Linked DNA regions of Homo sapiens: region 1 is linked to region 2. Evidence: fine-mapped expression QTL. Tissue or cell type: whole blood. Region 2 holds a variant in brackets; the other region holds the start of a gene. All regions are shown on one strand. Distances are from middle to middle.

Region 1 (2,679 bases), 35 kb after region 2:
GTCACGTGCAAAAGGCTAAGTTGCGGACGTAGACATACACATCCATAATATGAGGGTGGCTGGATCCCCAAAGGGGGCTCCTTTCAGAGAGGGCCTGAGATGCCCACTGATCCATCTTCAAAGCTGGAAATCTTAGCCCAGCCAGACAGCACGAAGCCACAGAGACAAAGGAAGTAGTGGCAGAGAGCACACTGGTGGGGAGAAGCCTCCAGTAGCCACGGTCCCGCGAGCGTGCAGGCTTGCAGCAGGTGACGCGGCAGACCCATGTTTCCAGCGAGGCTGCTCCCAGCTCCCACCCTCGGGTGCCTCCTCTACCAGCCACCACTTGTAAGAGCCAGAAGCCAGCGCTGGGAGCTCCAGGCTGCACACCCAACTCTCCACGGAAGCCCGGGAGACACAATAGGGGAGGCTCTGCCAGGGCCAGCCCTGCTGGGGAAAGGGGGCAATGGCGGACCCCAGGGCCCCCCGGAAAGGAAACAGGATTGGATGGATAAGACAAGAAGGAGGGAAAAAATGATGCACTCTCATGAATCCCCGAGCGCTAGAATCCTTCTTTCCCTGCGCCCCCATCCTGTGCCCACTGCCCAGCCCCACCTTCCCCAAGCACCAAACCAGCAAGTTCCATTTTGTGTCGCTCATAAGTCCACACTCACACCCAGCCACACGCCCTCGTCCGTAATTCCCCACGCTCCACCAAGTGTCCACAGCTTCCAAGTAACAAAGGGAAAACTCCTCATGGATAAAGGGTGGGCGCAGCCCTTTCCCCTTCTCCTGAAAACCCTGACCCCAAGCTCAAGGCAGCACCGAGAGCAATTCCCAGCCACCAGCGTCACCCCCAGCGCCACAGCCTGCCTCCCCTAGAGGCTCCTCTCTCTTCCGACGCCGATCTCCTTGTTTACATCCCCAGCCCGGTTTCCCGCTGCCCAGGCGGGGACCGCGGCGCAGCTGACCGCGGAGGACCGCACACACCCACTGAACACACAAAACCCGGCGCTCCCGGCGCTCCAGAGATCGGTCCCCACCGAGCCTCGCCCCTCCTCGGAAAAAGGAGCCAACTTTGCCCACCTCCCCAGCCGCCTACCTGCACAGCCGGTCCCCTCCGAGACTCCCAGGAGGACCCGCCGAGTCCCGAGGAGCCTGGGAGTGGCGGGGCTGGGGGCAGGGCGGTGGGTGAGGCTTGAGCTGCTTTCCCGCCTCCCCTCCTCCTAGGAGTCGGGCTGGCTGGGAGGCGCGTCCTGCGGGGGCGGGGGGGGGGCTCGCTCGGGGCTGGGCTCGGGGACAGCCCACTCCGTGCTGCCGTCCGCTGGCTTCTGGGTAGCGGCCGCGCGCAGACCCCCTCTCCTCCTCTCCCTGTCCGTCCTCCCGCTCTGTGCTCGCGCGCGTCCTCTGCTCCTCTCTCCTCTCGAGGGGCGGAGAGATTTTTCCAAAGGGCAGTCAAGCTCCGAGAAGCAACAGGAGACTGCCGCCGAGGAGGCGTGCAAGCGCCGGAGCGGATTTGCCATCAGCTGTTGCTTTTCGGTTTCCCTCTGGTTAGGGTGGGAAGGGAGCAAGACAGGCACAATGACAGACCTGGTGTCTCTCTGCAATAGTAAACCCCGAGGAACGGAAAAATAGGAGAAAATAACCCAGCACCAGACACAGCAGCCCACGTTAATTGGGAGCCTTGGTAATTAAGGGGAATGTGCACCAAAAGCATGAATGGCTGTGTCGTGGGCGCAGGAGCCAGCTCCAGTTGTAGTTGTCATTTTCAGCTAGAGCCAGGTGGGGAGCTGGGGGGATGGTCCTTACCTGAACCATAGATCTGCTGCCTTGAACCCCCTTTTCAAGCCCCATCCACCTCTGGCCCTGCCAGGAGCAGTACCACCCCGTCCTCAGCCCAGTCCCCAAGAGTCAAAATTCATGATGACGAACTTTGAATGTGAAGATGTAAATAAATCCTGGCTCGGCAACCCTGCCTGTGACGCGACTTGGAGCATATCTCTGCACTCAGCTCCTGAGTCTATTTCCTCACGTGGGAAAATGGTGATTAGAGACTGACCCCATGGGAGGCTTAGCTCATAGTGAGTGCTCAAGAAATTGGCTCTTACTATTAGGGGCAGAGCTTGTAGGAAGGGGCAGAGGCCAGGCACAAGTGTCAGTAGCCAGGAGCCATGCTGAGATGGAGGCTGTCCAGCCTCAGTCAAGGTGTGTGTATGGCCGAGCCGGGTGGAGGGAGGAGCTACTGAGAAAGGCTGTGATTGTCCAAGCCTAGGTAGGGCCACGGAGAGTTCCTTACAAACCCCAAGCCGGGGATGATGGGTACTGCTAGGAAGAAACCTAGCCCTGCCTCTGCTGCCCTCAGTTCTGGGCCTGTTTTCTCATTTGGGAAAATAGGGAGATGGACTAGATGATCCTGAGGTCTCTTCCAGCTCTGCCCTAGATGATCTAATTATTTTAATAAAAGGTCAGGTCTCAAAACCCCAAGGCAGGAAATATACATGAACTCAAGAAGACTTTGGAACCAGTAGGGGAACCATAAATAGCTACTGAGAAAGAGCACCCAAAAAGCCTCCCCTCAGGGGATAGTTCTGGCCCCTTAATCATGGGACCTGGCTGAATGGATGCCACTCTGGCCCAGTCCTGAACTCCCTGGGGTTCCTGTGAATGCTAAAGCTCCTTCTCCAAAGCCAGACTCAAATC
Region 2 (2,679 bases):
ACTGGGGCACAGCTGCCTGCAGTCAGGCTCCTCCCAGTGCCCTGAGGGGCTGGAGCTCACTCTGCTGTGGGATGCATGGGACAGAGGGAAAGGTCTGGACTGAAGGGTCAGACTCAGAGGGAACTTACAGGCACCCTTCAATGTCAGCCCTCATGGGAAGGGGAGGCTAGGGCCACATGGGGGCTTGGGTGTGTCCTGCCACACGCTTTGGACTTCTGGGGTCCAAGCTACCCTTGGCTATTATAGTAAACTAATGGGGTATGACCTCTATGTGGGAGTAGAAAGAAGGTCCAAGTGTCTATTCAGCTCAAAGAGCCTCATGAACAGGTGACAAGTGGGGACTGTGTCGCAGGTCCTGTAGAGAGGACCTGGGCATCTAGAGAGGCCAGGAAGCCCTCTGCTTCCCTTCTCCCAAGCTCAACTGTCCCAAGGGCCTCCAGAAAAGGTTCCAGTACTTTCTTGTCCACTCCCCGTCCCCCACATAGATCAGAAGAGACAGGATGGGCTGACCTTCAATGTTTTGACCTCTCCTTTGCCCCAGAGTCTACCTGGCAGTCCTCAAACTTCCAGCCCTACGTCCCAACACACACGTTCTGCCTCCGAGACAAGAATCCAAGAGAATGCCCATTTGGGGGTCACACACCAGGGGTCCCTTCCTGTCCCACCTAGTATCACCCCCCCAAGGCCACTGCCACGGCATCCTTACCGGGGCTTCTGATTGAAACTGCACTTGCACCTGCGACCTGAAAAGCAAAGAAACCATCCAAGGTCATGCTGCTGGCTTGGCCACAGCAGGGCCAAGGGTCTGTGCAGGTTGTGGGACTATGTAAATGGCACCCCCTAGACCTGGGCAGTGCACAGTTTGCACAGCTGCACACAGTGGCCCTCGGATGGGGTAGCTTCTTCTGGGGCAAAGGAAATACATTCTATAGCTGGAATGGCTACACCCCCACAGCCCTCTTGATCATGTGAGTAAAGAGGGATCTGTGCAGATCAGGCTCATGTGGGAACAACAAACTCGGAGGCACATCCCTCGCACACTAGGGCAGCACCTGTCTCCTTCCTCCGTGACTGCCCCATTCATGCCCTATAGACACAGCACTGGGAAGCCACCCTGCTCGTTCCTATCTATGCTCATTGTCATATGACATTTTCTTTGTTCCCGTGTCACTGTTTTACTGAGCACTTACTATGTGCCCAGCACTCTACTGGGTCGTGAAGATAACACGGAGGGCAGGCAGCCTCCTTTCCTCTCCAGGAGAGGGACCAACCAGGCTCTCACACTGTCCCCACCTGCTTAGCAGCCTCAGTCATTGCTCTTAACAGAGTGAGCAAAAGAACAAACTTACTTAGGATAAGGAGGATCCCAACCGAGAAGAGGACCACAGCGAACACCAGTCCCCCAATCCTCAGGGTCTGGTAATCTGCCAAAGGAACCAAGGGTGAGAGAGGAAGGGGCCAGGGAGAGGGTGTCTGTTCCCCCTACCCCTCCTGCCAGGCAGGGCTGCATTCCCCCTGACCCCTGCACCCAGGGTTGCCATCGCTCACCATAATGAAAAGGGTCCATTTCCTTCTCCTTTTCAGCTGCTGCAAAAACAAACAGTTGGTCAAGAGAAAGAAAGCTACACAAACTGGTTCCCAAATATCTAACCTTGCCTCACAGACCTCAGTCTCCACAAAGGAATTCCAGAG[G/C]AGCAGGGCCCATTAAACAGAGATGCCTAGAGGTGCACGGTAGGGCGGGCCTGCCAGTTAGGGGGTTAGGGGAACCCTAAGGGCCGAGGTCAGTGAAGGCATCGAAACTCAGTGAGGCTCTGAGTCATGCAACACCCACATTCATTGCCCCTTTGTATTCTTACATCATCCCCAGAAGGCAGGGTCAGTTTTCCTCTTGTGACACACGGAGAAACCGAGACCAAGGAAGGACATATGACTTGCACGAGGCCAGCACTTGCTAATATGGTCTAGAGACTGATGTGCAGGTCTGAATCCCAGGGTTCAGGCCACAAATCCACAGAGGCGCAGTGAGCTTGCGGGGCTTAAAAACTACTCCCTGCCGGACCCTTAGGGGGCGAGGGGGCAGGCTGTGCTGAGGTCTGTGAATAAATAGCTGCCACCTCCACGACTTTCTCTGCTGACTGAAGGGAGAGGCCCCTGACTAGACATGAAGAACGTGAGAGTCCCCCAGCCCTAATGTCCCAAGGGGCCCAGAACCTTCCAGCAGAGAGGGCTGGACAGGGTTGTCATCTTGTCACAGCCAGGTCCCAGAGGGGTACTTACCACTGGCCAGGACCATGGGGGCCAGCAGGCTGCAGAGGAAGACCAGCACCAACTCCATGGCGTCTGGGGACAGAGGGAGGAAAAAATGATTCTCTGGCTAAGAAGCCTCCATCCGTCAGCTCCAAGCGTCAGCCTGACCAGGGGCCAAGCCAAATCCCCAGCTTTGCTCTGCACTCATGACTTGGTGAGGGTTCAAACAACCTAAGCACAAGCAGTTGACTTTTTTTTTTTTTGAGACAGAGTCTCGCTATCTTGCCCAGGCTAGAGCGTAGTGGCATGATCTCGGCTCACTGCAACCTCCGCCTCCCAGGTTCAAGTGATTCTTCTGCCTCAGCCTCCTGAGTAGCTGGCATTAGAGGCGTGTGCCATCATGCCCGGCTAATTTTTTGTATTTTTAGTAGA

Evidence for each region. PIP is the estimated chance that this variant, and not a neighbour inherited with it, causes the effect.
Region 1: it holds the start of FXYD6, and the variant in region 2 is fine-mapped to the expression of FXYD6 in whole blood (TOPMed, PIP above 0.99).

Annotation. Positions count from the first base shown.
Region 1 is chr11:117,875,511-117,878,189 of GRCh38, forward strand. FXYD6 (FXYD domain containing ion transport regulator 6) reads right to left here and starts at 1,148. Exons shown (of 8, transcript NM_022003.4): 1 at 1,082-1,148. FXYD6-FXYD2 (FXYD6-FXYD2 readthrough) reads right to left here and starts at 1,148. Exons shown (of 10, transcript NM_001243598.4): 1 at 1,082-1,148.
Region 2 is chr11:117,840,442-117,843,120 of GRCh38, forward strand. FXYD6-FXYD2 (FXYD6-FXYD2 readthrough) reads right to left here. Exons shown (of 10, transcript NM_001243598.4): 2 at 2,278-2,340; 3 at 1,549-1,587; 4 at 1,350-1,424. The coding sequence starts at 2,335. FXYD6 (FXYD domain containing ion transport regulator 6) reads right to left here. Exons shown (of 8, transcript NM_022003.4): 2 at 2,278-2,340; 3 at 1,549-1,587; 4 at 1,350-1,424; 5 at 707-743. The coding sequence starts at 2,335. Among named protein-coding and RNA genes, the nearest start is that of FXYD6-AS1, 8.1 kb to the left of the region's middle. RefSeq lists an enhancer at 1,271-2,470. The variant G/C (reference allele first, on the strand shown) is at 1,693.